Linked DNA regions of Homo sapiens. The protein of the gene in region 7 purifies or fractionates together with the protein of the main gene of each other region. This does not show direct contact. Each region holds a gene or a part of one and is shown on either strand. Other genes may lie near its edges. The genes, in order: RAB11B, MSLN, USP4, BTBD9, ANKRD17, KLHL23 and BSPRY.

What was found.
Region 1: the proteins of BSPRY (region 7) and RAB11B purify together in Homo sapiens (affinity purification with mass spectrometry; 2 studies listed by BioGRID and IntAct, with this or other methods). This does not show direct contact.
Region 2: the proteins of BSPRY (region 7) and MSLN purify together in Homo sapiens (affinity purification with mass spectrometry; one large-scale study listed by BioGRID and IntAct). This does not show direct contact.
Region 3: the proteins of BSPRY (region 7) and USP4 purify together in Homo sapiens (affinity purification with mass spectrometry; 2 studies listed by BioGRID and IntAct, with this or other methods). This does not show direct contact.
Region 4: the proteins of BSPRY (region 7) and BTBD9 purify together in Homo sapiens (affinity purification with mass spectrometry; 2 studies listed by BioGRID and IntAct, with this or other methods). This does not show direct contact.
Region 5: the proteins of BSPRY (region 7) and ANKRD17 purify together in Homo sapiens (affinity purification with mass spectrometry; one large-scale study listed by BioGRID and IntAct). This does not show direct contact.
Region 6: the proteins of BSPRY (region 7) and KLHL23 purify together in Homo sapiens (affinity purification with mass spectrometry; one large-scale study listed by BioGRID and IntAct). This does not show direct contact.

The regions. Positions count from the first base shown.
Region 1 is NC_000019.10:8,400,360-8,402,646, reverse strand, and holds part of RAB11B (ras-related protein Rab-11B), read right to left. Parts: intron 562-2,287; coding exon 368-561; intron 163-367; coding exon 82-162; intron 1-81. UniProt on the Homo sapiens protein: The small GTPases Rab are key regulators of intracellular membrane trafficking, from the formation of transport vesicles to their fusion with membranes.
Region 2 is NC_000016.10:759,432-763,533, reverse strand, and holds the start of MSLN (mesothelin isoform 1 preproprotein), read right to left. Parts: upstream 2,801-4,102; 5' UTR 2,713-2,800; intron 2,462-2,712; 5' UTR 2,360-2,461; intron 863-2,359; 5' UTR 854-862; coding exon 769-853; intron 302-768; coding exon 258-301; intron 1-257. UniProt on the Homo sapiens protein: Membrane-anchored forms may play a role in cellular adhesion. Megakaryocyte-potentiating factor (MPF) potentiates megakaryocyte colony formation in vitro.
Region 3 is NC_000003.12:49,281,054-49,284,553, forward strand, and holds part of USP4 (ubiquitin carboxyl-terminal hydrolase 4), read right to left. Parts: coding exon 3,413-3,500; intron 3,084-3,412; coding exon 2,934-3,083; intron 1-2,933.
Region 4 is NC_000006.12:38,633,430-38,636,929, forward strand, and holds part of BTBD9 (BTB/POZ domain-containing protein 9), read right to left. Parts: intron 1-3,500.
Region 5 is NC_000004.12:73,077,299-73,080,798, forward strand, and holds part of ANKRD17 (ankyrin repeat domain-containing protein 17), read right to left. Parts: intron 1,593-3,500; coding exon 1,344-1,592; intron 236-1,343; coding exon 57-235; intron 1-56.
Region 6 is NC_000002.12:169,736,832-169,740,331, reverse strand, and holds part of KLHL23 (kelch-like protein 23), read right to left. Parts: intron 1-3,500.
Region 7 is NC_000009.12:113,366,541-113,369,131, reverse strand, and holds part of BSPRY (B box and SPRY domain-containing protein), read right to left. Parts: intron 874-2,591; coding exon 749-873; intron 1-748. UniProt on the Homo sapiens protein: May regulate epithelial calcium transport by inhibiting TRPV5 activity.

The DNA.
Region 1 (2,287 bases), on a different chromosome or scaffold from region 7:
ACAAAACAAGCGAAGGTTCAGAGGCCGTGTTCCACCCTGCCTGGCTGGTGCCCTACCCACACCCATCTGGTCCCCGGCCACCTGTGAGGATGTTCTTGAATGCTTCCTCTACGTTAGTGGAATCCAAGGCTGAGGTCTCGATGAAGGACAAGTTGTTCTTTTCTGGAACAAAGAATACTGCCTAGGTGAGTGGGGAGGCAGGGTGACAGGCTCCCACATGCTCTCAGGGACCCCGCCCACCCACCTGGCCCATCCCAAGGCCACTCCTCAGGGAAGGGAAGCCAGGGCTGTGGCCAGGGCCCCAACACTGTGAGGGGCCTCCTGCCTTCCAGACACCTCTCTGATGCCTGCGTCTCCGTCTGCTCACCTGCGAAGGCGCGGGCCTCGTCAGTGGGCACAGCCCGCAGGTGGCGCAGGTCACTCTTGTTGCCCACCAGCATGATGACGATGTTGCTGTCTGCGTGGTCCCGCAGCTCCTTCAGCCAGCGCTCCACGTTCTCATAGGTCAGGTGCTTGGCGATGTCGTACACCAGCAGGGCGCCCACTGCACCACGGTAGTACCTGCAGGGTCAGGGGCCCATGAGCCTCTCTGGAGGACAACCATGGGCAGCGGCAGCCTCACGGGATAACAGCACACATCACGCCCAGGGTGGGTCGTCCAGGGCCGAGCCAAGGGGCAGTCATTGTGGCCTCAAGGGAAGGGTGTGTGTCTGGAGGCCCCAGCGCTGCTCCCTGGATCCAGCTCTGAAATGTGGGGGTCTGAGGAGGGAGTTTGGGAGCTGGAAATAGAAGATACCGTGAGGTCATCAAAAAAAGGGAAGAAGGGGCTGGGCATGGTGGCTCATGCCTGTAATCCCAGCACTTTGGGAGGCTGAGGCGGGTGGATCACTTGAGGCTGGGAGTTTCAGACCAGCCTGGGCAACATGGCGATACCCCATCTCTACTAGAAAAACACAAAAATTGGCCGGGGGTCGTGGCTCATGCCTGTAATCCCAGCACTTTGGGAAGCCGAGGCAGGTGGATCACGAGGTCAGGAATTCAAGATCAGCCTGGCCAAGATGGTGAAACCCCATCTCTACTAAAAATACAAAAATTAGCCAGGCGTGGTGGCAGGCGCCTGTAATCCCAGCTACTCGGGAGGCTAAGGCAGGAGAATTGCTTGAACCCTGGGGGGCGGGGGGCGGAGGTTGCAGTGAGCCGAGATTGTGACACTGCACTTCAGTCTGGATGACAGAGTGAGACTCTATCTCAAAAAAATAAATAAATAGGCCAGGCAGGGTCGCTCACGCCTGTAATCCCAGCACTTTGGGAGGCCGAGGCGGGCAGATCATGAGGTCAGGAGATCGAGACCATCCTGGCTAATGCGGTGAAACCCCATCTCTACTAAAAATACAAAAAATTAGCCAGGCGTGGTGGTGGGCGCCTGTAGTCCCAGCTGCTCAGGAGGCTGAGGCAGGAGAATGGCGTGAACCTGGGAGGCAGAGCTTGCAGTGAGCTGAGACTGCGCCACTGCACTCCAGCCTGGGCGACAGAGTGAGACTCTGTCTCAAAAACTAAAACTAAAAAATAAATAAATTAATTAATTAAATTAGCCAGGCATGGTGGCACAGGCCTGTAGCCCCAGCTACTCAGGAGGCTGAGGCAGGAGAATCGCTTGAGCCTGGGAGGTCAAGGGGGCAGTGAGCTGCAATTGTGGCACTGCACTCCAGCCTGGGCGACAGAGCAAGACCCTGTCTGTCTCCAAAAAAGAGGAGGCGACAGCCAGGCACGGTGGCTCACGCCACCTGTAATCTCAGCACTTTGGGAAGCCGAGAGGGTGGATCACCTGAGGGCGGGAGTTTGAGACCAGCCTGACCAATGTGGAGAAACCCCATCTCTACTAAAAATACAAAATTAGCCTGGTATGGCGGCATGTGCCTATAATCCCAGCTACTTGGGAGGCTGAGGCAGGAGAATCGCTTGAACCCAGGAGGCGGAGGTTGCAGTGAGCCGAGATCGTGCCATCGCACTCCAGCCTGGGCGACAAGAGTGAAACTCCATCTCAAAAAAAAAAAAACAAGAGGAGGTGACAGAGAGACAGATGTACCTGAGGGATGAAGGAGATGGGAGGGAGCCCAGAGGATCTCAAGACGGTGGTGGGAATGGCTGGGGGGCTTGGGAGGGGTCCAGAAAAAGGCAGCTGAGTGGGTCCTGATGGCTGGGAAGCCTTTGCAGGGAATGGAGGCCAGGCCCAGGTGGGAGGACAGGAGGCGTGTGGGACCAGGTGTGGGCACCAGTGAGGAGGGAA
Region 2 (4,102 bases), on a different chromosome or scaffold from region 7:
AGGCCTGGCTGTGTCTCAGACCCATGGGCTTGGCTGCTTCTCATCCATCTACTTCCCAGACCCAGCTGCAATTTCAGCTCTGCCGCTCCCTGGACCTGGCTGCTCCCAGGCCAGTCACATGCAGGTCCAGGTGCCCCTTTGCAAGCAAGGACCGTGGAAACTGGCAAGCACCGTGGATACGTGACAGAGAGAACACAGCATGGCACCCCCACCTGGGACCTGAAGACCCTCCCCTGTTTCCCCAGAGGGGACCTTACCTGCCCTGTCTCTCCAGCCAGGGTCCTCGAGGGCTGCACCCATCCTAAAGGGGCAGAGGGGACAGCTTGGGGGAGGGGGCGGGCCTCTGGGCTGTGCCCTGACCCAGGGGAGGAAGGAGGCAGAGCCTGGCCGCCCCCACAGCCAGCCCTGTGCACACCCCAAAGAGAAGCCAGTGGCTCAGGCCCATGTACCCCGTGACATCACAGTCCCCCAGGCACAGGGGTCGGGACTCCACCAGGGAGCCCGGCCTTCCACATCTTTCCCTGAGACCCGGCTGCTTGGCCGGTCAGACCACCCATCCCACAGACATCCCCACTGTGTCCTGAGCCCCATCACTCCCTGGCTGGATCTCCAGCTCCAGTCACCTCTGGGGGCAGAGACTGCTGCTGAGACGTGGCCACCACAGGCACTCCAGGGAGAAGGCAGGGGCAGGCAAAGCCTTGCTGGGGGCCTGGCCCCCAAGGCCCCTGGGCCGTCCCCACCTCACCAGCAGCCCCATCAAGTACGCACCGAGGCTGAAGAGCAGGAACAGGAGGCTGCCGAGGGCGGGGGTCCCACAGGACCCCAACAGGGGTCGAGCCGTTGGCAAGGCCATGGTCTGTGTCTGTGGAGGGCAGTGACTCAGGATGGGACCCCCTGCTCCCACCCCACGCCTCTGTCCTGGGCCAGCCTGGGGCCACATGGGCCCAGGAGGGGCTCCCAGAGCAAACTTCTGTGGTACCTGCAGCTTGTGTCCGCACCCTGGCCCTGCCCTCCAGCCACTGAGCCCTCTGTCCCCTGGACTGGCTCCTCCTGTCCAGGGGAGGGGCTGGGTCTGAGATCCCGGTCCCCAGCCCAGACAGCCCAGGAGTCAGTTGGCGCCCACCCCTCTCCCAGAAGGGCAGGGCAGTGTGAGCAGAGCTTAGATCAAGCAACCGGGGCCGCCGCCCACTTGGGCTGGCCTGAGTCTCCCCACTCTCGCACAGGAGGACGAGCAGCCCCGTCGCCTGGATGTGGCTCCCTTCCCTCTCCCCTGCCCTCAGCTGCAGGTGCCTGGGCTTTGTGAACACCCCAGGCTCTGCCAGGCAGACAACACCCTTGAGGCAGGAGGGGCACTGCGGGCACAGAGGCCACCGCCCCTTCCCACCCAGCAGCGTCTTTTTGGGCCACTTGGCCTCTCTGAGCCCATTTTCAGGTGCAGTCCAGGTGGGGCGGGGCTGGGCCAGTGAGCAGCCTGGGGAGCCCCTTGTACTCTCTAGGGTGGGGCCTGTGGGCCACTGTGGGGTGGGGAAGTGGGTGGGGAGACCCTCCCTGAACAAGAATTGTCCTCCTGGGGTAGGGGTGGGGCTCGCAGAAGAGGGAACTGGCTTCTACACTCACCCCTTTCAGGGAGGCCACCATGGCGGAGTAGAATAGAGCTGCCTCCTGAAAACCTTGGCCCAGGCCCGGTGGGTCCACCCACAGCTCAGAAATGGGGGTCACACGCTCATGCTCAGCAGCCCCATCCACAGGCAGAGCCTGCCTGGTCGGCCCGGCCACTGGGGAATGTCGCGGGGAGGCACACAGCCTCCGGGTGACAGACTCTACTCCCCCAGGCCCCAGAGGAAGTGGGGAGGCCCCTGAGGCTCTGAACACCTTGAGAAGGTGGAAGAAAACAGACCCCCCCCACAGCCAGAAAATGGGCAGTGAGTGGGACCCCCAGCCCTTGGGGTGCGTGAAGCCAGGAGGGAAACGTGGCCATCGGATCACAGGGGACCTGGGCACTCCCCACCCCAGCTCCATGTGACCCAAGGACCTCAGCACCTGGGATGGGGGCTCCCCGAGAGCCCGGCCCTTCCTGCTCTGAGGGGCCTCTGCAGGCCATGGGGGGCCCTGGAATCTGCATCCTTTACACCTGCAGGAGAGCTGGGCTGGGGCCGTGGAGGCACCTGCACTGCCTTAGGACTGCCGCTTCCAAACAAATGGGTCTGCGTGTGCCCTGCGGGGTGAAATCTGCGTCCAGCTGAAGCCTGACCATCGCTCTGGTGCTGGAAGCCCGGCCTGGGGCGGCCCCAGTTCTCCAGATGGAAGGTGCAGATTCCATCCACACCACAACAGGAAGAGCTCAAAGGTTGTTACTTACAGATCCCAGGGAGGGAGGCACCGTGGGTCCACCGGTAGCTCTCTGTCCGCGCGTCACAGCAGACGGGAGTGGCCGGCCAGGCAGAAAGAGGAGTGCGTGGCGCTGGCAGCGCCCATGAGGAACAGGACAGCCCCTTTCAGATCGCGGGCCAATGCCCACACGTGGGCCTCTAAAGGGCGATGTGAAAGGGGAAGCCCAGCCCCCAGGCCTCTGAGGCCTTCTGCGCAGTTGGGTAGGGAGCTTTACCCCTAACGCCCGGGCAGCCCCCAGCCCTCCAGGTCCCGAGTGGCCCCTCCCAGGTCTCAGTGGGCCCTGCCCAGGGTAACTCTGATGTGCAGGGTGATTGGCCACACCTGAGCCTCCTCTGCCTCGGTTTCCTCAATTGGGAAGTGGGGGTGGAGAGCCTGGCAGCCTCCCGGGCCGTCAAAGGGAACAAATGACGGCTTTGCCCGGGGCAGCAGGGAGTGGTGGCGCCTCACGCCCCAGGAATGTGTGGGTGGAGACCCCGCACAGGAGCCTTGGACAGGCAGCGGGCCAGGCCTGGGGGAGGAGGGATGCCCAGGAAGGCAAAGCTGCCCTCGGTGGGCGAGGGTGGGAGCCCGGGCCCAGGTTTCACGGCTGCCCTGGGTGGGTGTGGGGCATGTGTAGGAGCCCGGGCCCAGGTTTCATGGCTTCCCTGGGTGGGTGTGGGGCGTGGGTGGGAGCCTGGGCCCAGGTTTCACGGGATCCCACTCTGATTCTCAGGTGCTGAAACCCAGGGAGCACTGGCCCCCCCAGTCGCAGGTCAGCAGGCTCTGGATGGTGGCCACGCAGCCCAGACAGGACTCCCGGGAGCACAAGCCTGACCCCCAGTGCAGTGTGGGCCTCGCAAGGCTGTGAGCCGTCCGTCTCAGGGCTGTGGGAGCACACAGGTCAGGGAGGCAGGACGGGGCCCAGCTCCAGGCACACGCACACCCCTTTCTCGCAGGGTCGACTGGAACAGAGCTGCCCCCGGGCGCTCTCTGGCCTGGCGAAGTGGGAGCTGTCTTCCCTACGCATCTGGGCTGGCTGCCTGCTGCTGATGGAAGAGCTGCTCCTCCTGACCTGGGGCCACAGAAGCCCCCTCCCTGCCCCTGAAACCCCTCCCAGCATGTCGTGAGCTCTTATCCCCAGTACGGAATCTGCCTCCGCTATGAACACCTGCAAAGGTTTGTGTGCTGAACGGAGGTGTGCGCGGCGGTCATCTCTGGTCTCTCCACAGAGTGGGTTTTCTATCGTGACTCGCGGTGGAATCGGACCTTCACGCACACAGAATTCAGCAAGGCTGCCAGGTGTAAGCGTCAACTTACAAATGTCAAGAAGGGATTAAGGGCCTTTTAAAAACTCCCTTCCGCAGAGAACAACTGAAAAATTCCAGACACTCTTGTAGCAAACCAGTTACCCAAGGGCTCTGGGGAGGGGACAGAAGGCAGCCGGCTTGGGCGGGAACTCACAGGTAAAGGGAGAGGCCAGCTCCGAGTGGCGTTCCCTTTGTGTCCACACAGCTTTGCTCTGAAGGAGCCGCAGGTTGGCTGCGGGGCTGTGAAGTGGCCCAGGCTGCCACGGACACCCACAACTTTCCCGGCCAAAGGCCAAAGGAAACCAAGGAAGGAGCCCAGAATACTCAGGGCCCAGAGCTCGAGGAGAGGCCTGAGCCGGAGGAGCCAAGGAGGCGCCCACGTGCCCAGCTGAGCCCTGAACTGAAGGAGCCGAGGAGGGTCCAGG
Region 3 (3,500 bases), on a different chromosome or scaffold from region 7:
CTCATGCCTGTAATCCCAGCACTTTGGGGGGCCAAGGCAGGTGGATCACCTGAGATCAGGAGTTCGAGACGAGCCCGACCAACATGGTGAAATCCCGTCTCTGCTAAAAATACAAAAATTAGGCCGCGCACGGTGGCTCACACCTGTAATCCCAGCACTTTCGGAGGCCAAGGCAGGCGGATCACGAGATCAGAAGATTGAGACCATCCTGGCTAACACGGTGAAACCCTGTCTCTACTAAAAAATACAAAAATTAGCTGGGCGTGGTGGTGGGCGCCTGTAGTCCCAGCTACTCGGGAGGCTGAGGCAGGAGAATGGCGTGAACCCGGGAGGTGGAGCTTGCAGTGAGCCAAGATCGCACTACTGCAGTCCAGCCTGGGCAACAGAGCGAGACTCCGTCTCAAAAAAGAAAAAAAGTATGTGTATATATATATATATACACACACACACACACACACACACACACACACACACACACATATATACATTTATATATACACACACACACAAATTAGCCGGGCATGGTGGCACACACCTGTAATCCTAGCTACTTGGGAGGCTGAGGTAGGAGAATCGATTGATCCTGGGAGGCAGAGTTTGCAGTGAGCCGAGATCGTGCCATTGCACTTCAGCCTGGGCAACAAGAGCGTAACTCCGTCTCAAAAAAAAAAAAAAAAGGCCGGGCACAGTGGCTCATGCCTGTAATCCCAGCACTTTGGGAGGCCAAGGTGGGTGGATCATGAGGTCAGGAGTTTGAGACCATCCTGGCCAACATGGTAAAACCCCGTCTCTACTAAAAATACAAAAATTAGCTGGGTATGGTGGCAGGCGCCTGTAGTCCCAGCTACTCAGGAGGCTGAGGCAGGAGAATTGCTTGAACCCAGGAGGCAGAGGTTGTAGTGAGCCGAGATCGCACCACTGCACTCTGGCCTGGCGACAGAGTGAGACACGGTCTCAAAAAAAAACAAAAACAAAACAAAAAAAACAACAACAACAACAAAAGAAAATGGGAGAACCTTTCTGGGTAACTCCAGCACCAGACAAAATGGTGATGAGGGTCTAGAGATACACACAGAGGGCTTCAGCAAGTATGCAGAAATGGCTGTTCTTAACAGAATTACAGTTGGTGCCATAATAATTTAAACTCAACCAAAACAGGCCCCAGAAAGCTTTCTTCCTCCAATATTTTATTTAAAAATTTTCAAACACACAGAAAAGATAAAGAATTTTTTTTTTTTTGAGACGGAGTCTCGCTGTGTCGTCCGGGCTGGAGTGCAGTGGCGCGATCTTGACTCACTGCAACCTCTGCCTCTTGGGTTCAAGTGATTCTCCTGCCTCAGCCTCCCAAGTAGCAGGGATTACAGGCATGCGCCACCATGCCTAGCTAATTTTGTTTTGTACTTTTAGTAGAGATGGGGTTTCACCATGTTGGTCAGGCTGGTCTCAAACTCCTGACCTCGTAATTTGCCCACCTCAGCCTCCCAAAGTGCTGGGATTACAGGTGTGAGCCACTGCGCCCAGCCAAGATAAAGAATTTTTACAACAAATACTTATTATCCATCACCTGGCGTCTCCTGCTGACATGCTATACTTCATGTATCTATTCTTTCCCCCAGAAAGCATTTTAAAATCTACATTTTGTGGGCAACTCCCTTTTTTTTTTCTTTTTTTGGAAACAGGGGCTTGCTCTGTTGCTGAGGCTGGAGTGCAGTGGCACAATCTTGGCTCACTGCAACCTCCGCCTAGTGGGTTCAAGCAATTCTCCTGCCTCAGCCTCCCTAGTAGCTGGGATTACAGGCGTGCACCACCACATCCAGCTAATTTTTGTAGTTTTACTGGAGACAGGATTTCACCATGTTGGCCAGGCTACTCTCCGGCTCCTGATCTCAAGTGATCCACCCACCTTGGCCTCCCACAGTGCTGGGATTACAGGTGTGAGCCACTGTGCCGGCCTCTTTTTTTTTTTTTTTTTTTTTTTTTTGAGATAGAGTCTCGCTCTGTCACCAGGCTGGAGTGCAGTGGTGCAATCTTGGCTCACTGCAACTTTTGCCTCCTAGGTTCAGGCGATTTTCCTGCCTCAGCCTCCTGAGTAGCTGGGACCACAGGTGTGCGCCACCACATCCAGCTAACTTTTGCATTTTTAGTAGAGATGGGGTTTCACCATGTTGGCCAGGATGGTCTCGATCTCCAGACCTTGTGATCTGCCCACCTTGGCCTCCCAAAGTGCTGGGATTACAAGCATGAGCCACCGTGCCCAGCCTATTTTTTTAAATATATTTTTTATTTTTTGTAGAGAGGAAGTCTCTCTATGTTGTCCAGGCTGGTTTTGAACTCCTAGGCTCAAGTGATCCTCCCACCTTGGCCTCCCAAATTGATGATATGTGAGCCACTGTGCCCAGCCAGGGAACATCTATCTGTTAACTTACTTTCCTGTTCTTAGTTACAGTCTGTACTGTGGGGCTTGAGAGGATATGAGTAGACAGCCAGTCCCAATCCCTACCCCAGGGACAGGATCATGGCAGGTGTGCAGCCCACCTGCAGCCCCCAATAATAACCCAACTCTACCTGACAGGCTATTCTTGGTTGCCTTGTCCCCTGTTGTGCTGCCTCTGCTAAGGTGAGGCTACCTGTGACAGATGATGGACAGGAAGGCCAGTTAGGTGGCCTAAGTGACTCGAGAGGGAAACTAGCAGTGGCAGGGGTGACTGGCAGCAGCCTGTGTCTGGGCAAATGCTTCCACTGGAGAGTCTCTTCCCCAAAGATGGGAGGATAGGGACAGAAGGGGTAACTACAGCTAAACTCTGACCTCCTAGACCCCGGCAACACACATCCTTACTCAGAAAAGTTTTTGGTGGCAAACCACTCAGCCAATCAGTGCCAAGATTTTCTGCCTGTTTTTAAATGTTCCTAACACTGTAGTCACCATGACCCACCTGATTGGGAATTCTACGACTGTGTCGAGCTTATCCCTCCAGTATCTGTTGTAGGAGAAACGTTTGAGGTGGACCACCAGGATCTTGGGCAAGGACCATAGGTCAAACTTTTTTGTGGCCTGTTGATGCTTCTTACAGTTGGGACAGTACCTAAAAAGAGAAACCTCCACTTAGCAGGGCAAGCCGGCAGCCAGTGCCACCTGGGCACTCATGCATGGAGGCACAGCTGCAGTCCCCTGATAGCTGCCATCCTCTCGGTCAGCACTCAACACTACTGCTTCTGGCCAGGGACCTGTCTTCCAAAATGGGGTGACGGCTTTCCTTGGAAACCTCAACTCACAGAGGATTATGTTGTAGGGTTAGCTATATAAAGAAGTGACACATCCAAATACAAAGGGGTTTATGTGCACAGATGGCCCTAGCAGATCTGAGTCCTGGGGTGCATGGGGCCTCTGCCCAGACAGTGAGGAGCTGCGTACCAGGGGTCATGCTCCCCAAGGGTCTCCATGGTGGTGAAGAGCTCGATGCAGTCTCTCAGGGCCACTGTGGTCTTCTTCTTCTTCTGAG
Region 4 (3,500 bases), on a different chromosome or scaffold from region 7:
TAGAAAGGGCCTTGCATAATGTAGCCATTAGATAAATAGCACCTTGTTTTTAATTACTCTTTTGCTTATATGCATTATGCATATACTTCCCAAATCAAGAAAATAGGGACACAGACTGCCAGAATATTTTTGTGTCTCATATTCAGATGCAAAGGCAGCCCAGGAGGTTAATGTGGACTTATGACATGTTATAATTTCTGAAACATTACAATAGCTTATGAGTTGCTGTTAAAACTGAACACTTAGCTGCTTAAGAAGCCAGAGTACCTAGTCTGTAATCAATATTTATACAGTACTTATCGTATTCTTTTTATTACTCCAAATATGTTCTTTCTCCTCTATCAAATTACAAATTTGATTGCTAAAAAAAAAATATACATCTCTATACGCGTCATGGCCCCATCCCTATACTCGTCATGGCCCCTTGAATACATAAGGCTGAATGAATTTAACTTCAAGTCCTCAATGTCTCTTCCTTCAATATAATCTTAAGATTATAAAAGTCAGGCTCCTTCACCCTGACAATATGCATACATGTGTGCACATTCCTTTCCCCAAGTAAAACCAGAATTAGGTGCACAAGGCAATTATTGTTTTCTCTATGCCCAGCACTTCACACGATTTCTGGCACACTATAAATGCTTAATGAATGTTAGCTGGGAGATAAATGAGAGAGAACAAGCACCTAGGCAGAATAGTGAGTAGCTAAGCTGTCAGTCATGAAGCTCCAATTTAACTCCAATTTCACTCCCTTTACAAATGTGTTTATAATTTTGCACAGCTACTGTTTTATTTCCTTATATAGTGGAACTCCCTTATAACTTCCTCTCACTAGGACTAACATGTGTGCTATATGCCAAAAGTCTTCAGTATATGAAACATGTAAAACCCAAAGAATATTGGCAAGCAAAGAATATGTCCTTAGATTCAGATTCTCTACATCCATGTTTCTGTGATTATACCTCTTCCTGTTTCTTTCCTGTGGGTTTTGCTCATTTCACCCATCTTATCTGTAAACTTCCCAGGAACAGGGAATATATTATTTGCTTCCCTTTTAAGACTCAATGTGCCTAATACAGGACACAGACTGGAATCCTGGCACATATTATTAAAAATTATTTTGCAAACTGGATTGTTCCTTTTTTTTAAAAAAAAAGGGGGGGGAGAGGGCATCTAACACAAAGTCAAATGCACATAGCTACACACCAGATATATGAAAGAAATTTTCTGTAGTTATTTTGTGTGTGTGTAAAATTAGAAATCATATCCTCCCCATGACTCATCAGAGATAAAAGAGGATAAATGAAATCTGTGTGTGAGGTACATGCCATCATGCACCAGGACAGTATTAAGCAGCTTCAAAGGTTATTGCTATGTATCAGGCATTATAATAGATTCTGGAGAAAACAAAAATAAGAATGAGATAAGCTCTACGAAATTGGAAATCAGACTGGTAGACCTAGAGAGTCTGGAGGCTGTTAAAATTCTTATTCTTCTCTAAACTATCTCCTGGTTCTCCATACACTTCAACCACTTTGTTAGTGCTGGTTCCTTTTCTTTCATCTATCCTCTAACAGCACCATCAGCATCACCTGGGAACTTGTTCAAAAATGCAATTTTTCAAGCCCCAGTCCACACCTACTTAATCAGAAACTATGGGGGTGGGACCCAGAAATCTGTGCTTTACCAAAGCCTCCAGCTATTTCTTTTTTTTTTTCTTTTTTGAGATGGAGTCTCGCTCTGTCACCTAGGCCGGAGTGCAGTGGCCTAATCTCGGCTCACTGCAATGTCCACCTCCTGGGTTCAAGCGATTCTCTTGCCTTAACCTCCTGAGTAGCTGGGATTACAGGTGTGCACCACCCCACCCAGCTAATTTTTATATTTTTAGTAGAGATAGGGTTTCACCATGTTGGCCAGGCTAGTCTCAAACTCCTGACCTCAAGTGATCCACCCACCTCAGCCTCCCAAAGTGCTGGAGTTACAGGCATGAGCCACCACACCTGGCCACCTCCAGGTCTACCCAATGCATTTTCAAATTTTAGAACTACTATGGTTTGCATGTGTCCTCCATGTGTTAGAGGAGACATGATTCCCCAATGCAACAGCAGTGAGTGGTGGGATCTTTAGTGATTAGGCCATGAAGACTCTTTTCTCATGAATGAATTAATGCCAGTAGAGTGGGAATAGGTTGACATGATCAGTTCAGCCCCCTTCCCTCTCTCTCTCACCCATGTGATGCCTTCTGCCATGTTATGACACAGCAAGAAGGCCCTCACCAGATACTGGCACATTGATCTGGGACTTCCTAGCCTCCAGAACTATCAGGAAATAAATTTCTGTTCTTTATAAATTAACCAGACTGTTCTTTATAAATTAAACTTAGATCAGTTCTTGTCTTAGTTTGTTTTGTGCTGCCATTATGAAACATAAAATATGAAATAGCAGCACAAAACAAAGACAAGAACTGATCCAAGTTTAAATACTGATTTAAACGTCCAAAAGTTCCATTCACCATCTTTTCCAGTTCTCACTCTCCATTTTTCTGGCATTGGGGCCTCTCCTACTATCTCTACATCTATAACTACTACTAACAATAACAGCAACAGCTGCCATTTATTATATTAAGCATCTATAAGACAGGCATTGTGTTAATCACTGTGCACATAGTACCTTTGTGTTAATCACTGTGCACATGTATAATCTCCACAATTCTTTAATTCAGATAAGAAGCCTAGGCTTAGAGAAGTTAAATAACTTGCCAAAGGTCAGCCAACCAATAAACAGCATAACAGAGATTTGACCTGCCATCTTCCTAACTCCAAAGTCCACTAAGTTAACTACTATACTAACATGCCTCCTAGAAGGTTGCTACTCCCACAGCCTCAGCGGACATCTATATTACAATTGTCCCTAACCATCTCATAAACTCTGAAGTAGCATTTCCAGTTACTTAGTGGATCTCTCTTTTTAAACTCCCCACAGAAACCTCAGAATTAACACTGCCATTATTTCTTCTCTCCACTTCAAACCTGTTCCTCTTCCTGTGATTTCTAACTTAATGTCATCATAAGCAAACAGTTGCTCAAACTAGACATATTATCTTTGACTTCTCACTCTCCCTTACCTCTAGCTGGTCATAAATGTAGAGATTTTAACATCTAAAAATGTCTCCAAAATCTATCCATTCCCATTGTCCAACATTTCTCACCTACACTCTAGTCTCCCTGCCTCTCTACTCTAATGCAATCTGCACACGAACTGTCAACTTTCTGATTATTCTACCTTCTATGGCTCTCCACTGCCAATGGATGGGAGGAGTCTAGACTTTTTAGGATGAAGTGGAAGACCCCCTCATAATTTGGCTCCAAAAACAGCTTCCTGCCTCATCACTTCCCCCATGCAATAAGAAGTGATTAGGCCCTCATGAATGGATGAATGCCATTATAGCAGGAATGGGTTCATTATCTCAGGAATGGGTTCTTGAGATGAGTTCAGCCCTC
Region 5 (3,500 bases), on a different chromosome or scaffold from region 7:
AAACATTTTCTCAGAAAATCCTCCCTTAAATAACTAGTACAAAATCAGGACTTTACCCCAACTTTAGGAAAGTCCATGTAGCCTGCAGGAACATGCTGATGGAATGTACCAGAAGGAGTTACAATTCCTGTACTATCTCGCTCCATTGCTTGATGTTGTGAAAATACTCCTGGGTCAGACATCGGTCTGTGGATCATAGGATTTCCCATCCCAGGGTTACACCAGTCTACTTTGTCTGAGGGCAAACAAAGAGGCAAAACAAAAATAGATAATATTTAAAATCAAAATCAAATATTTTGTTTTTCTAATATTTTCCACATTGAACCGTAAATTATTTCAATATAATGACCTACTTTTATATATTTACAGCAATATTTCCATGGTTTGTAAGTAGTGACATAATAGCTTAATGAAATAATCTAAAAACTTGGTGTTATAAAACAAAAGAAAAAAACCTAAGTACAACCTAAAGGGACTGAAAGGAAATATTATTATGTCCTTAATATGATGAAAGGAAGAAAAGAACATGCTTGCATTAGATATTTTCTGAAAGCAGTAATAAATACATGTAATGAGAAAGGTCACATGGGGACAGAGCTCATAAAGAAGTGATTAAATATTCACATAACAAAAAAAATAGGAATACAGATCTTTTAGAAATGACTACGAGGCTGGGCGTGGTGGCTCATGCCTGTAATGCCAGCACTTTGGGAGGCTGAGGTGGGTGAGTCACTTGAAGTCAGGAGTTTGATACCAGCCTGATCAACATGGTGAAACCCTGTCTCTACTAAAAATACAGGCGGGGCACAGTGGCTCACGCCTGTAATCCCAGCACTTTGGGAGACCGAGGCGGGCGGATCACAAGGTCAGGAGATCGTGACCATCCTGGCTAACACGGTGAAACCCCGTCTCTACTAAAAATACAAAAATTAGCCGGGCGTGGTGGCGGGCGCCTGTAGTCTCAGCTACTTGGGAGGATGAGGCAGGAGAATGGCATGAACCCGGGAGGCGGAGCTTGCAGTGAGCAGAGATTGTGCCGCTGCAGTCCGGCCTGGGTTACAGAGCGAGACTCCGTCTCAAAAAAAAAAAATTAGCTGGGCATGGTGGCGCATGCCTGTAATCCCAGCTACTTGGGAGGCTGTGGCAGGAGAATCGCTTGAACCGGGGAGGTGGAGGTTGCAGTGAACCAAGATCACCCCATTGCACTCCAGCCTGAGCAACAAGTGAAACTCCATCTCAAAAAAAGAAAAAAAAAAAGGAAATGACTATTAAAGTTAAATACTGTTTACATTATAGTTAAATGCATTAAGTTAATTTCTAGAGAGCAGGACAGAATATCCTACCTTGATTGCCACCAATCCCTTCAAAGGACCAGATGCCACTATGTCCTACTGATGTAGACAAATTGCTCCCAATAACAGATGGAGCTGACGTTCCAGTTTGCCTGATACGTGCAGAACGTTCAGTCCCAATAGGGACTGGAACTTTCCTGTCCTGAGACACATTGCTGGGCTTTTCTGACCCTAACGGTACTGATGATGGGGCAGGAGATGGTGCACGAACTCCCGAGGATACTGACTGTGCAGAAGAATCTAGAGAAGAGATATTTTGAAATAAAATACAGGTCATCTATAGAACATGTAATTTTATAAAACCAAATCTTAAAACCAGGAGATGTTTTAAATATATATTCTCAGAAAAACAAAGTGTAAAAATAATACTTAAAAATGATGCATATTAAAATTTGGCTAAAGTTCCATGACTTCAAGGTAGAATATGATGTCAATGCTGCAAAATGTTCAACTACAAAGGTAATAAACCATTAAATTAAATAATATTCAAATGAATTAACCCTTGACATTAAGTAAAATGTAGCAAGCAATAAGACATTTAAATTAAAAAACAAACCAACAACAACAGAATGGAGATGGGTAAGAATCACTGCCTGTAGTGGCAATCTCCAAACTGTATTCCCTGGGAATACTTGCTCTTTGTGTTATGATGAAAAAGAGATTCAGCTATCTAATAAATTTGGAAAACCTAGCCTAGGAAAAAGAAATACGTTTCTTTGTTATTTATTCATTTTTTATTTATTTTATTTATGTATTTTTGGAGACAGAGTCTTGCTCCATTGTCCAGGCTAGAGTGCAGAGGCTCGATCATAACTCACTGCAGCCTCAAACTCTTGGGCTCAAGCGATCCTCCCACCCCAACCTCCTGAACAGCTGGGACTACTGGGATGAGCCATCATGTCCAGTTTAAAAAAAAAAAGTTTCTTCAAATTAGAACTGAAGTTTATAGAACATTATATATACTGATAAAATACCAATAAGAGGATCATTGCCTAAGTCTGTTTTATTTTATCTTGTGAGTACTTCACAGAACATGCTTTTGGTAATGAGAATCTTTTTTACTTATGCAAACAAGGTGGATTTCTTGATTTGAGACTATTCATTAGTGATTCAATCTCTATACATTATTGAGAAAAAACAAAAATAACCAAAATTATATTTTATGTGAAAAGCTTAAATATTGGCCGGGCGCGGTGGCACACACCTGTAATCACAGCACTTTGGGAGGCCAAGGCGGGCGGATCATGGGATCAGGAGTTCGAGGGGCCAATATGGTGATACCCTGTCTCTACTAAAAATACAAAAATTAGCCGGGCGTGGTGGCACGCGCCTGTAGTCCCAGCTACTCAGGAGGCTGAGGCAGACGAATCACTTGAACCCGGGAGGCGGAGGATGCAGTGAGCCGAGATCGTGTCACTGCACTCCAGCCTGGGTGACAGAGCAAGATGACTCCATCCCCCCTCCCCCTCCCAAAAAAGCTTAAATATTAAAGCACATTTAAACTAAAATGGTATAAATAATAAAGGAGTCTGAAGCTTAAAAATCAAAACTGTTACCTGCAGATTCAACAGAACTGCAGTTGAATTCCAAATAAGCCTATTATATAAGATAAAAGAGAAAGACCTATAGCATTCCTGTTGACAATAAAAGCACTCCAGAAAAAAAGCTATAACCTAAAATTCAAAAATGAACGAAAAGAAAATGATATGAAGGAACAGCATAATTCAGAATTAGTAAAACGGAAACAATATGACAAAACTCAGGAAAGTGTTAGAAGTAAAAGAATATTTTAGCTAAAGACCAAATAAAACCAAATTCTGCAATTATACATGCAGTAGAAAACAGACAAAAACTACAAGGAATACACAGACATGTAAATGTAAACACAAAGATAAATAACAAAAGCTTGTTTTTTAAAAACCTACATATTGAAAGGCCACACCTAAACCTCTAGGAAAAATCAACCCAGAACAACTAACATCAAGACATAGTCAGGGCAGGCAGGCAGGAAGGAAAGAAGGATAAACAAATGAATCCTGCTTTCCCCTAGGTTCATCCCTGGGAGCCTACCTTAACCTCTGTGTTCACTCTGGTTTCCCTTTTATTTCCTGTATCCTTCTAGAACCAAAGTAGAGCAAAATAACAACA
Region 6 (3,500 bases), on a different chromosome or scaffold from region 7:
GAGACCAGCTTGGACTACAAAGTGAGACCACATCTCTACAAAAAATAAAAAAGTAGCCACGTGTGATAGCATGTGCCTGTAGTCCCAGCTACTCGGGAGGCTGAGGTGGGAGGATTGCTTGATCTCAGGAGGTCAAGGCTGCAGTGAGCTATGTTTACATCACCGCAGTCCAGCGTACGTGTCAGAGCAAGACCCTGTCTCAAAAAAAGTAAAAAGTCTACAGTAGTGTACAGTAATGTCCTAGGCCTTCACAATCCCTCCCCACTTACTCACCGACTCAACCAGAACAACTTCCAGTCCTGCAAGCTCCATTCATGGTAAGTGCCCCAAATAGGTCTACCATTTTTATCTTTTATGCTGTATTTTTACTGTACTGTTTCTATGTTTAGATACACAAAGACTTACCATTGTGTTATACTGCTTAGAATATTCAGTATAGTAACATGCTGTACAGGTCTGAAGCCTAGGAGTAACAGGCTATACCACACAGCCTAGGTGTGTATTAGGCTGTAGAATTAGTATGGTATAGCCTGTTGTTTAAGTATAACGTTCACATGACAAAATTGCCTAATCACACATTTCTCAGAACATATCCCCATTGTTAAGTGGCACATGGCTGTAATTAGAACACTAGATATAAAATGGAAGAAACACCATGAAAAAAGGGACAGATGAACTGCTGGGCATGGTCAGGGCAAGAAAACACTGCATTTGACGAGGGAAATCACAGCAGGTGGTGGTGGAATTTGACCTGGGTGATGGTAGGAAGTTGGCAAGTATAGATGAGAGGAGGCCATTCTAGACAGAGGGAAAAGCCAGTGCAAAGGCTTACTGGACAATGTTAAGTAGCCCAGTTTGACCAGGGCAGGTGGCACATTGAGGGTTGTTGCATGGGACTTTAAGGCTGGCATGGTAAGTTGAAGCCATGTAGCAAAGGATACTTACTGATGCCCAACAAAGAATCTGGATTTAATTCAGCCAGATTTTAAAGGTTTTTAAACAGAGGAATAGAGCAACTAACAAAGGAAGAACAGGTACCAGAAAGATCTAGTTACTGGCCAGGGTGGGCGGTCTCGAGGGCCTGATTTTGAAGGGGCTTTGGGTATGGAGGGAAGAGCATAGAGGAAAGAGACAGGTAAAACACACAGGTCTTGATGACTGACTGACGCAGAGGCAAACCAAACCGATTTTGAGGTCCTGAGCTGGAAAAACTGGAATCACTGATGCCAAAACAAGGAGGGGTGGGGGAAGTCGAGGAGGGGAAGGAGAGGGAGGGGAAGGAGGAGGAGGAAGAAGAAGGCAGAAGGAGGGAGAGGAGATGGGGGAGGGGAAGGGGAGGAGGGGGAGGGGGAGGGGAAGGGGGAGGAGAGGGAGGAGGGGGAGGAGAGGGAAGGAGGAGGAAGAAAGAGGAAGATAGGCGAAACATGAAAGGGAGATAGGGAGGAGAGGGAGGGGAAGGGGGAAGAGAGGGGAGGGTGAGGAAGGGGAGGGGGAGGAGGGGGAGGAAATAGGTTTGGAGGGAAGATGAAGAAAGGAAGAAAGATGATGAGGATCATTTTAGTTGAAAACGTTGGTTTTGTCTTTCCACTAACTTTTACCTAGCACCATTTTGCATGATACAGTTCAATCTTCTTGTTCCTTTCTATTCCAAAATAAAAGTGGATTTATAAGTAGAGCAGTTATGATGGAAAAAAATAAAGATTCAGGAGTTCCTAAACAGCCAAGTATTTATTTATTCTCTGTACATTAGTGAACTTAATTTGGGTCCAGGACCAAAAAAAGGTAATAAATTTTAAATTTGACTGTACCCAAATTAAGTTTATTACCAGAGAAAGCTGCTATTTCACTTCAAGGCTACAAAATAAAACGAATTGAAAAAAATGTTATCCTTTCTACCAAAAAATGGGAATCTAAAAGTTCAGTATGGCTGGGTGTGGTGGTTCACACCTATAATCCCCGCACTTTGGGAGGCCAAGGTAGGAGAATCATTTGAGGCCAGGGGTTCAAGACCAGCCTGGGCAACATAGTGAGACCCCCCGCCATTTCTAGTTTTAAAAATTAAAAATAAAATTTTAAAAATTGTTTAAAAAAAGTTCTGTATGAGTCCACCCACCAAAACAAGCAGTAGTCAAAACTGCACATAACTGGCAGTGTTACCTCTCCCTGGGATGACTAGATATAAACAAGAATCAAAGCTTTGAGTTCAAAGTATAAAACTGGAATTTCAGACCCAGTTAGCAGGTGAGGGAGGACTTTGAGGTATGAGGGTCTCCTACTCCACTCAAGGTTAACGCAAGCATGCATATGGCTTTTGTTTCACAGTAGATACACCATCGCAGCATATCTTTTTTCAACAAGCACTGTTCTAAATATAAATTTTTAAAATTTCAGTAAAGTAATAAGCTTTCATTCTCAAAGAAATATACTCTGAACCCACCCTTGTAATCCCAGCACTTTGGGAGGCCAAGGTGGGGGGATCACTTGAGGTCAGGAGTTCAAGACCAGCCTGGCCAACATGGTGAAACCCCGTCTCTACTAAAAATACAAAAATTACCTAGGTGTGGTGGCACATGCCTGTAATCCCAGCTACTCAGGAGGCTGAGGCAGGAGAACTGCTTGAACCCGGGAGGCAGAGGTTGCAGTGAGCCAAGATCACGCCACTGCATTCCAGCCTGGGAGACAGAGTGAGACTCCATCTCAAAAAAAAAAAAAGAAAAAGAAAAAGAAATATACTCTGAACCACAAAACCATTGAAACTGTTATATCATCCTTAAAAAACAGAATCAGAAATGTATGCTAGTTTACAATAGCTCCTTAAATATATGGACTTTTCTTATTTCTTTTGCAGAAGAGGGGTCAGGACATTCAGAGCCCTCCTGGAATCGGCAAGTAGTGGTGAGACTCAGGCAAAGACAAAAACCAGGGGAGCAACAGCACCGGGCTTTCTGCTACCTTCTCCCACCCTGGTGTGACAGTGGTCACAACTTCACATGAAATCAATTTCTGCTCTATAAGAGCTGACATGTCCTTCAATACCGACATTCAGGACAATCATGCGTAACATTTATAGCATGCTTACTCTGTGTCAGACACTGTTCTAGGCACTTCACAAGCATAGATTAATTTAATCCTCTCAATGATCCGAGACTAGGTAATATTGTCATCCCCATTATACAGATGACAAAACGGGGGCACAGGGTGATTAAACAATTTGCCAGAGCTCATCAGCAAGTAAGAGGAAAGCAGGGATCTGGATGCAGGCAGTTTAGCTTCAGAGGCAGCGTGCCTGATCCCAAGACTGTTCTGCCTCTCAGCTTCCTGCCTGTCATCCAAGGATCATACCAGGTCAGATTTCCAGACCAGGTCAAATTCCCACACTCTCACTAGCATTAAAAAAGAAACAGAAAAGCCTGGGAAGAAACATTTGGGACAAAATGATACAAATTTGGTAACGACCTACCAGTTGTTTTTGTACAACTCCTCAGCACCAATGAATAAAT
Region 7 (2,591 bases):
TAAGCAATTTCTAGCAAATATCTAAACTGCTGGTAAATCAGGCATCATTTGATACCAGAATCTAGAGTAGAGAAGCTACAGCTTCTACCAAAATTGTAAGGATAATACGAGGAGGGAGGATTAAAACTGAAAAAAAAAAAAAATCAGTCTATTAACCTAACTGTTCCACGAATTGTGAAAGACTACCATTGGGAGAATGGAAGCTTCCATCTAACTTGGAGGAGGCCTGCTCTGGAGAACCTCTGTGCTAAATGGGAATTCCTGGAGGCAGAAGACCATGTCAGTTTACCTCTGTGGCCCCAGCATGTGGCACAGGGTGGGGCCCACAGTTGGCCTGAGTCAGTGTGTGTAAAGTGAATAAGTGAGGCAAATCAGGCAGTTTGATTCTTGGTCCAGATGTTCTTCAGTTGGCCATCAATTTTATCTTCTTAAAGAGAAACCCCAGGTTTCCAATAAATAATACTGGGCTGCCCTAGTAGGTCAGGATATAAGGAAGACATGACTTATAGGAATGAGATTTATCTTTGACCCAACCACAGAACATGTTAGTCCGGAAATGGGAAGGACTTGGCCCAGCTGCCCCAGGCCTGTCTGGAACCTTGACCCTACTGACCAGCCTGCATCCAGCATGACTTGTTTAAGCTATCATCTCAGAAGCACGGGTCCCCATTGTGAACCAGGAGTGAACCCCAGACAGACAGACAGAAGCCCAGTTGTCCTAATGGTCCTGGGCTCTACTGCTCCTAACCTGAGAGAGACCCAAGAACCGCCGTTGCCCAGAGTTGGGTCAGTAGTGGGCTCCGAGTGCACTTCTCATTAAAGTTTAACATTTCCGACTCCTGGGGATCCAAAATGCCCTCTGCTTCTTCGGTCCTTATATGGGGAAAAACAGAGACAGAGATTCAGGATGGTTCTGGAAATATATCTGGATCAATATGGGGTGAAGAGAAGAACAGAAGTAAAATCTCCTATCAGGCGATACCAAGATTGGCAGCTAGGGCCAGGTGCAGTGGCTCACCCCTGTGACCCTAGCACTTTGGAAGGCCTGATGTGGGAGAGGATCACTTGAGCCCAGGAGTTTGAGACCAGCATGGGCAACATAATAAGACTCCATCTCTACAAAAAATTTAAAAATTAGCTGGGTGTGGTGGCATGCACCTGTAGTCCCAGCTACCTGGGAGGCTGAGGTGGGAAGATTGCTTAAGCCCAGGAGTTCGAGGCTGCAGTGAGCCAAGATCATGCCACTGCACTCCAGCCTGGGTGACAGAGTGAGACCCTGTCTCAAAAAAAAAAAAAAGAGTGGCATCCAGGCCCCACACAGGTGCTTGGGCCAAAAGGGAAGGTGGCCATTTCCCCTGTGCCCCCCAGAAGCCTTAATTTTAGCAAAGCTGGTGGACAGTTTATAGGAAGATGTGTTCTTGGTGCCAGTATTAGAAATTGAAGGTGGTGTGCTCTGCAGAGGAAGCAACTTGCCAGAGTCCCTCAGTAAGTTAATGGCAGAGCTGGGGCTAAGACCTCCTGGGCCTCTGGAACCCCTGCACGATAGTCTTTCTACTCCAACATCTTGCCCTTGCCTGGAAAATATCTCACCTCCCTCTCAGACCTGTTGGGGCAGTCATGTTTCCCTGGGTTTTGTCAGAAGGTACAGCCACTCCTCTACTTTAAAAATGCAAACACCTGAGGGGTCCACAGAGGAAAGGGCCATCAGTTATCACCCCAGCCACAAATGAATCATGGCACTGTGTGCTCTCAATAACTCTCCCCTCAGCTCACAATGGGGGCTGGGTTTTGCTGGAGAGGTATTTTGGGACAATATGATGCCTAGGAGTTGAAAACTGCCATGTATCAGCAGTGAGGGCCTGGGTTTGCTGTTTTCTCTACAGAATCATACCTCAACTTTGCTATAACCTGGGAGGTAGTGGTTATCTGATTTAACAGGACAGAACAGATTCAGAGCTAAAAAGGGGAGCTAGATTCAAGTCATGCCTCCATGCAAAAATAGAACAAAACTGGGATGAAGCCCAGGCAGCATTCAACATAATTTTTTCCTTGACCTGAAGTGAAATCTCAAAGGAATATAGGGCAAAGTAGGGGTTTACCATGGAGCTTTGCAGCCTTTTGACCTAGGTGCTGAGAAAGACCTTTCCTACTGCCTCCAATCCTGAAGATGGCGTTGAGATCAGGCAGTGGTTCCGAGTACACACACTCTCTCCCCATATCTCATGGCTCTGTGCATAAATGGAGTGGGCACAGGGGTGGGGCATGTGCCCTGATGGCTCTTTGCAAGACTGTCACTGTTCTGTCTTGGGAGGTATAAGGTGAACAGAACCTTAGAAATGCTGGGAGCAAGCTCTAGTAACAAAGGCTCTTTGTGGTCAGGACAACAGAGGGTCTATTGCCATCTTCTCAGAACGCAGGAGCTCCCGCCAACAGGTGGGGAAGAAAGAGGAGCTGATGTCAGCGGTGCTAAGCTGTCATCCCAGGGCAAATGTGAGGCTGAACATAGTGAAGTCTACAGCGAACCACCCGGGCTAGCTGCCCTATGGTACCGAAGACAAAACTCATGGCCCCAAAGGGGTGGAAATGAAAAA